2 linked regions of the Homo sapiens genome follow. The protein of the gene in region 2 purifies or fractionates together with the protein of the main gene of each other region. This does not show direct contact. Each region holds a gene or a part of one and is shown on either strand. Other genes may lie near its edges.

The links. Proteins that work in one complex are often made in the same cells at the same time.
Region 1: the proteins of RABL2B (region 2) and CEP350 purify together in Homo sapiens (affinity purification with mass spectrometry; one large-scale study listed by BioGRID and IntAct). This does not show direct contact.

Annotation. Positions count from the first base shown.
Region 1 is NC_000001.11:179,961,310-179,964,809, reverse strand, and holds part of CEP350 (centrosome-associated protein 350), read right to left. Parts: intron 1-3,500. UniProt on the Homo sapiens protein: Plays an essential role in centriole growth by stabilizing a procentriolar seed composed of at least, SASS6 and CPAP. Required for anchoring microtubules to the centrosomes and for the integrity of the microtubule network.
Region 2 is NC_000022.11:50,766,999-50,770,321, reverse strand, and holds the end of RABL2B (rab-like protein 2B), read left to right. Parts: intron 1-305; coding exon 306-417; coding exon of another isoform or gene 418-446; exon of another isoform or gene 447-769; coding exon 770-867; coding exon of another isoform or gene 868-897; intron 898-1,197; coding exon 1,198-1,281; intron 1,282-1,447; coding exon 1,448-1,546; 3' UTR 1,547-2,816; downstream 2,817-3,323. UniProt on the Homo sapiens protein: Small GTPase required for ciliation. Activated in a guanine nucleotide exchange factor (GEF)-independent manner via its intrinsic GDP for GTP nucleotide exchange ability.

The sequences.
Region 1 (3,500 bases), on a different chromosome or scaffold from region 2:
AAGCAAGATAGATAAACCTCTAAGTAAATTAAAAAAAAAAAAAGTGAGAAGATCCTAAGAAGCATAATCAGAAATGACAAAGGTGACAGAACTCATACTACAAAAATACAAAAGAGCCTCAGAGACTACTATGAACATCTTTATGTGCACAAACTAGAAAAACCAGAGGAAATGGATAAATTCTTGGAAACACACAACCTCCCAAGATTGAACAAGGAAGAAACTGAAATCCTGAACAGATCATAACAATTTACAAAATTGAATCAGTTATAAAAACAAATCTACAAACCAAAAAAAGACCAGGATCAGATGCATTCACAGCCAAATTATACCAGACAAACAAAGAAGAGCTGGTATCAATCTTACTGAAACTACTCCAAAAAATCAAGATCACACTGAATGGACAAAAGTTAGAAGCATCCCCTCTATGAACTGAAAAAAGACAAGGATGTGCACTCTTACGACTCCTATTCAACATAATACTTTCCATCCTACCCATAGGAATCAGGCAGAAAATTAAAATTTAAAAAAAGGCATCCATATAGGAAAAGAGAAACTCAAATTATCTCTGTTCAACCCTAAGGAGTCCTTCAAAAAACTCCTAGACCTAAGAAAAAGACTTCAGTAAAGTTTCAGGATGCAAAATCAACTTACAACAGTCAGTGGCATTTCTATATGCCAATAATGTTCAAGCTGAGAACCAAATCAAAAATGCAATCCCATCTATAATAGCCACATGAAAAATAAAATACCCAGGAATAAATTTAACCAGGGAGGTGAAAGATTTCTACAAGGAGAACTACAAAACACTGATGAAGGAAATAACAGATGACACAAACAAATGGAAAAACATTCCATGCTCATGGATTGGAAGAATCAAAATTTAAATGACCATACTGCCCAAAACAATCCAAAAATTCTATTCCCATCAAATTAGCAACATCATTTTTCACAAATTAGAAAAAACAATTCTAAAATTCATATGGAACCAAAAAAGAGCCTGAATAGCCAAGCAAAAAGAACACAGCAGGAGGCATCACATTACCCAACTTCAAACTATACTACAAGGATATCCTAACCAAAACAGCATGTTACCAATACAAAAACAGACATCTGTATCAATGTAACAGAATAGAGAACCCAGAAATAAAGCCATACACCTATAACCAGTTGATCTTGAACAAAGCTGACAAAAGCAAAAATGGGGAAAGGACACCTATTCAATAAACAGTGCTAAAAAGAAAAAAAAACCCAAAAAACACACAAAAAAACTGGCTAGCATGTGCAGAAGAATGAAACTGGACCCCCTACCTTTCACCACATACAAAAATTAACTCAAGACGTATTAAAGACTTAAACATAAAACCTCAAACTATAAAGATCCTATTTTAAAAAACCTAGGAAAAACTCTTCTGCACATGGGCCTAGGCAAAGAATTTATGACTAAAACCTCAAAGGCAAATGCAACAAAACAAAAATTCATAAACAAGATTTAATTAAACTAAAAAGCTTCTACATAGCAAAAGAATCAACAAAGTAAAGAGGTAACCTAAAGAATGGGAAAAAAATATTTGCAAACTGTACATCTGACAAAGGACTAGGATCCAGAATCTACAAGGAATCTCAAACAAATGAACAAGAAAAAAAAAATAACTCCATTAAAAAGTGAGCAATGGACATAAACGGATACTTCTCAAAAGAAGACATACAAGTGGCCAACAAACATATGAAAAAAATGCTCAGAATCACTAATCATCAATAAAATACAAATTAAAACCACACTGATACCATCTCACACCAGTCAGAATTGCTATTATTAAAGAGTTAAAAAATAACAGATGACAAGGATGCAGAGAAAAGGGAGTATCATACACTGCTGGTGGGAATGTAAATTAGTTCAACCCCTGTGGAAAAGAGTAGAGGGATTTCTCAAAGAACTTAGAACTATCATTAGACCCAGCATTCCCACTACTGGGTATCTATCCAAAGGAAAAGAAATCATTCTATCAAAAAGACACTGCACTAGTATGTTTATCACAGCACTATTCACAACAGCAAAGTCATTGAATCAAACTAAGTACCTATCAACAGTAGATCAGATAGGCCGGGAGCAGTGGCTCATGCCTGTAATCCCAGCACTTTGGGAGGCCGAGGTGGGCAGATCATGAGGTCAGGAGTTTGAGACCAGCCTGACCAACATAGTGAAACTCCATCTCTACTAAAAATACAAAAATCAGCCAGGCATGGTGGCATGTGCCTGTAATCCCAGCTACTCAGGAGGCTGAGGCAGGAGAATTGCTTGGACCCGGGAGGCGGAAGTTGCAGTGAGCCAAGATCACGTCACTGCGCTCCAGCGTGAGCAACAGAGCGAGACTCTGCCTCAAAAACAAAACAAAACAAACAAACAAACAAAAAACAGTAGATTAGATAAAGAAAATGTGGTACATATACACCGTGGAATACTACGTAGCCATAAAAATGAATGAAATCATGTCCTTTGGAGCAACATGGATGCAGCTGGAGGTCATTATCCTAAGCAAATTAATGCAGAAACAGAAAATCAAATATCACACCTTCTCTCACTTGTAAGTGGGGTCTAAACAATAGGTAAATATAGACATAAAGATGAAAATAAGATACTGTGGATTCCAAAAGTGGGAAAGGGCCGGGCGTGGTGGCTCACGCCTGTAATACCAGTACCTTGGGAGGCCAAGGTGGGCAGACCACTTGAGCTCACAAGTTTGAGACCAGCCTGGCCAACATGGTGAAACCCCATCTCTCCTAAAAATACAAAAAATTAGCCGGGCATGGTGGCTCGTACCTGTAGTCCAAGCTACTCGGGAGGCTGAGGCAGGAGAATCGCTTAAACCTGGGAGGCAGAAGTTGCAATGAGCCTAGATCAAGCCACTGCACTCCAGCCTGGGTGACAGAGACTCCATCTCAAAAAAAAAGGTGGGAAGTGACAGGTAAGGGGTAAAGGTTGAAAAACAACCTACTGGGTACTATGTTCGCTATTTCAGTGATAGGTTCAACAGAAGCCCAAACCTCAGCATGATGCAATATACCCATGTAACGAACCTGCACGTGTATCCCCCACAACCCAAATCTAAAATAAAAGCTAAAGCGTAGTCTAACTTCATTTATAACTAACCAGAGAAACAAACCGTATTAAAGCTGGACGTTAGGAGTCAACCAGCATCATATTATCAAGTGTGTAGTCATGACCCGTTAGTAGATTAAAACAAAACAAAACAATATCGTGGATTGGAGCTAGCATTTTTTTAATGGAACTAAATAGGATTGATTTGCAAATATCAAGTGTATTGAAGGTAGTGAGCGCTTTATTTTATTTTATTTTATTTTTGAGACACAGTCTCTCTGTCGCCCTGGCTGGAGTGCAGTGACGCGATCTCGGCTCACTGCAACCTACACCTCCCAGGTTCAAGTGATTCTCCTGCCTTAGCCTACTGAGTAACTGGGATTACAGGTGCGCGCCACCA
Region 2 (3,323 bases):
CTGGTCTCAAACTCCTGACCTCAGGTGATTGACCCACCTCAACCTCCCAAAGTGCTGGGATTACAGGTGTGAGCCACTGCACTGGGCCAAGAATAAGATTTTTAAAAACATTTTCGCATCTGGAGGCTCCAGGGGGCTTCCCTGAGAAACGGCAGCCTCTGCGGTCAGAGAGGCTGCAATTCAGAGCGTTCCCACAAACAGCACCATGTGCTCGTGCTTACCTGCTTGGGTGTGTGAGTCACCTGGAGATGGGGTGCAGAAACATTGACATACCTGAGCTATCTTTCTTCCTCTGCCCTTTGCAGGTGTTTGATGTACAGAGGAAAGTCACCTATAGGAACCTGAGCACCTGGTATACAGAGCTTCGGGAGTTCAGGCCAGAGATCCCATGCATCGTGGTGGCCAATAAAATTGATGGTGGGGCCATCCCTGCACCTGGGTGTTAGCAATTCACTGGGGACCTGCCCTCATACATTTCCTCCTCCATTCCCCGGGCAGGCAACCTTCAGTGATTGGTCCTCCCTCCCACGATAAGATACAACCCTTGGTTGGTTGCTTGCATTCTTCCCACCTTATAAAGAAGCCAGCTAAGCCGACCTGCCCTCTTTCCAAGACACAGATCCCTATTAACTGAGCTCTTTCTAGGACCTGTTTCCCAATCATCCCTGCCTATCCCACTTTCTGGAATGAAGGCCTCCAGTGGCCCCCCCCTCCAAACCTTCTTCCCTTCCCTTGACAGACAGACCAATGTCCTACCTTCTCTCTACAGCAGACATAAACGTGACCCAAAAAAGCTTCAATTTTGCCAAGAAGTTCTCCCTGCCCCTGTATTTCGTCTCGGCTGCTGATGGTACCAATGTTGTGAAGGTGTGGTTGACTGCAGAGGTAGCTAGCAAGGTCAGGGCGCTAGGTGGTAAAGGGAAGCTGTGAAGAGAAGGGCTTACTGCAGGTGTGATGGAGAGAACCGGGACAGTGCATGGGCATGGGTGGCAGGGAGGGGAGGAGCTGATGGGCCTGGACTTGATGAGGCAGAAGTCCATTGACCATACATAGGTCAGGGTGACGGGGAGAGGCAAATGGAGGGGTAAGGTTGCTGATTTTAGGAATGGAGTATTGTGTAGTCTCACAGTGGGGCCAGTGGGGTGGACTGGGCAGAGTCCAAGGCACTCTCATCCACCATCTCTACCTCACCCCCAGCTCTTCAATGATGCAATTCGATTAGCTGTGTCTTACAAACAGAACTCCCAGGACTTCATGGATGAGATTTTTCAGGAGCTCGAGGTAGGTCAGGTCCACATTTCGGGTGGGATGGAAGAAACGGCTCCTCTTCAGGGATAGGGACTACAACCCAGTAGAGTGACTCTTGCCTAAGTTTGCCCCACTAAATGTATCAGAGCTGCGGTTGAGCAAATGCAGGGCCAGGCCTCACCTGCGACCTTGTTCACAGAACTTCAGCTTGGAGCAGGAAGAGGAGGACGTGCCAGACCAGGAACAGAGCAGCAGCATCGAGACCCCATCAGAGGAGGCGGCCTCTCCCCACAGCTGAGGGGCTGGGGCTAGGGGTGGGTGGAGCCCTTTTAAAATACCCTTCCCTTCAACAACTCTCCAGCTCTGAATGGAGAAACTCTCTAGGCCATCCCCTCTTCTACCTCCTGCAACCCACCCATCCTATTAGCCTCCCACATTCTAGGCCCGTGATACAGGGATGAGGTCAGCACCAGCAAACTCTGGACTGGTGGAAGAATTCCCCACCAGATCTCCTTGAAGCAGAAGTAGGGATCAGCATCATTAACACCTTCCCCACCCCCTCCCCGCAGGCAGACAGTGAAGAGAATCAGAAAACATGATTATGTGTCACTTTAATACAGGAAATTTAGGTGTTTTTTGGTGTTTTTGTTTTTGTTTTTGTTTTCTTTCCAAAGCTCACCTCGGGGACAATTCCTTGGGCTTCTCCTGAGGTAATGATTTACCCCCCCACCCACAGCTGAGTCTGTGAGGCCCCATCCTTTCCCTACGTTTTCTCCCATCTTTTTTCCTCTTCAGTCTCCCAGTCATCTGGTTTGTTTGTTTCTTTGTTCGTTCTGAGACGGAGTCTCGCTCTGTCGCCAGGCTGGAGTGCAGTGGCGCAGTCTCGGCTCGCTGCAACCTCTGACTCCCTGGTTCAAACGATTCTCCTGCCTCAGCCTCCCGAGTGGCTGGCATCACCACGCCCAGCTAATTTTTGTATTTTTAGTAGAGACGGGGTTTCACCATGTTGCCCAGGATGGTCTCGATCTCCTCACCTCGTGATCCGCCCGCCTCGGCCTCCCAAAGTGCTGGGATTACAGGCATGAGCCACCGCGCCCGGCCCCAATCATCTGTTTTTAAACAATCGTTTTTGAGCAGATAGCTATTCATTCCAGATTTTCGTGTACCCATTCTGTTTCAGGAGCTCTTCTAGGTAAAGCTGAGATCACAGGAACAGCAGGTGACAGGCCTAGCTATAGTTAGGAATACACAAGCCGTAAAATCGAGTCCTTACAGCCATACCACAAGGTACGTCCATTTGGACTACAAGAAGAGCTTCCTTTAAAGTTCCTATTTCAGCATAAAGAGGCTGTCCTTTTTTTTGAGGAATAGTTTGGACCTTGTGCCTCCTGTGGGAGGCTGAGGACTGCAAGAGGAGAGCTAGCAGATATGCCTGTTCACCCCTCTCTGGTACTTGTGGCTTGCTAGTATGTTTTTATGATAATCTCGGGCATTGTTTGCATTGTGTTTATTAATAGGGTTTTGTTTTTGTTGTTTCCTTTTTTACAGTAAAGGCTGAATTACATAAACATTGAGTAAATGTATGTGCTTTGTGGCTCTGAAGTGTGTACTGAGCAAAAAGACAAAAGAATCTGCAAATCATCACCCTTATCAATGAGGGGTAGCTGCCTTGACCTGTTGCAGGGTAGCCCATGTTTACTCTCAATTCACTATATTGGAGGCCATTTCAGTGGAATTTAGTGTTTTCAAAAGAATTCAATTACCTATTAATTTGGGAGCTCAAGAACAAGCACATTTCCCCTTGAAATCAGCAATACTTAGATGTTCAACGTAAGATGTTTGACCTGACCAGGGGTTCCCAGGAACGTATACCCTGATGAGGTAGAACTTAAAAAAATGTAGTTACTGTAAATAACTACTAAGTACTTAAAAAAAAATACAACAGCCTTACTGAGATAGAATTTGCAGACTATAAAGTTCACCATCGTGTTGGTTTTATGGGACTATTCTGTATCAGGTTCCTTAGAAGCTGACCCTGAGAAGGCCGTGGTTCAAATGACTTAATTAGGGTCATT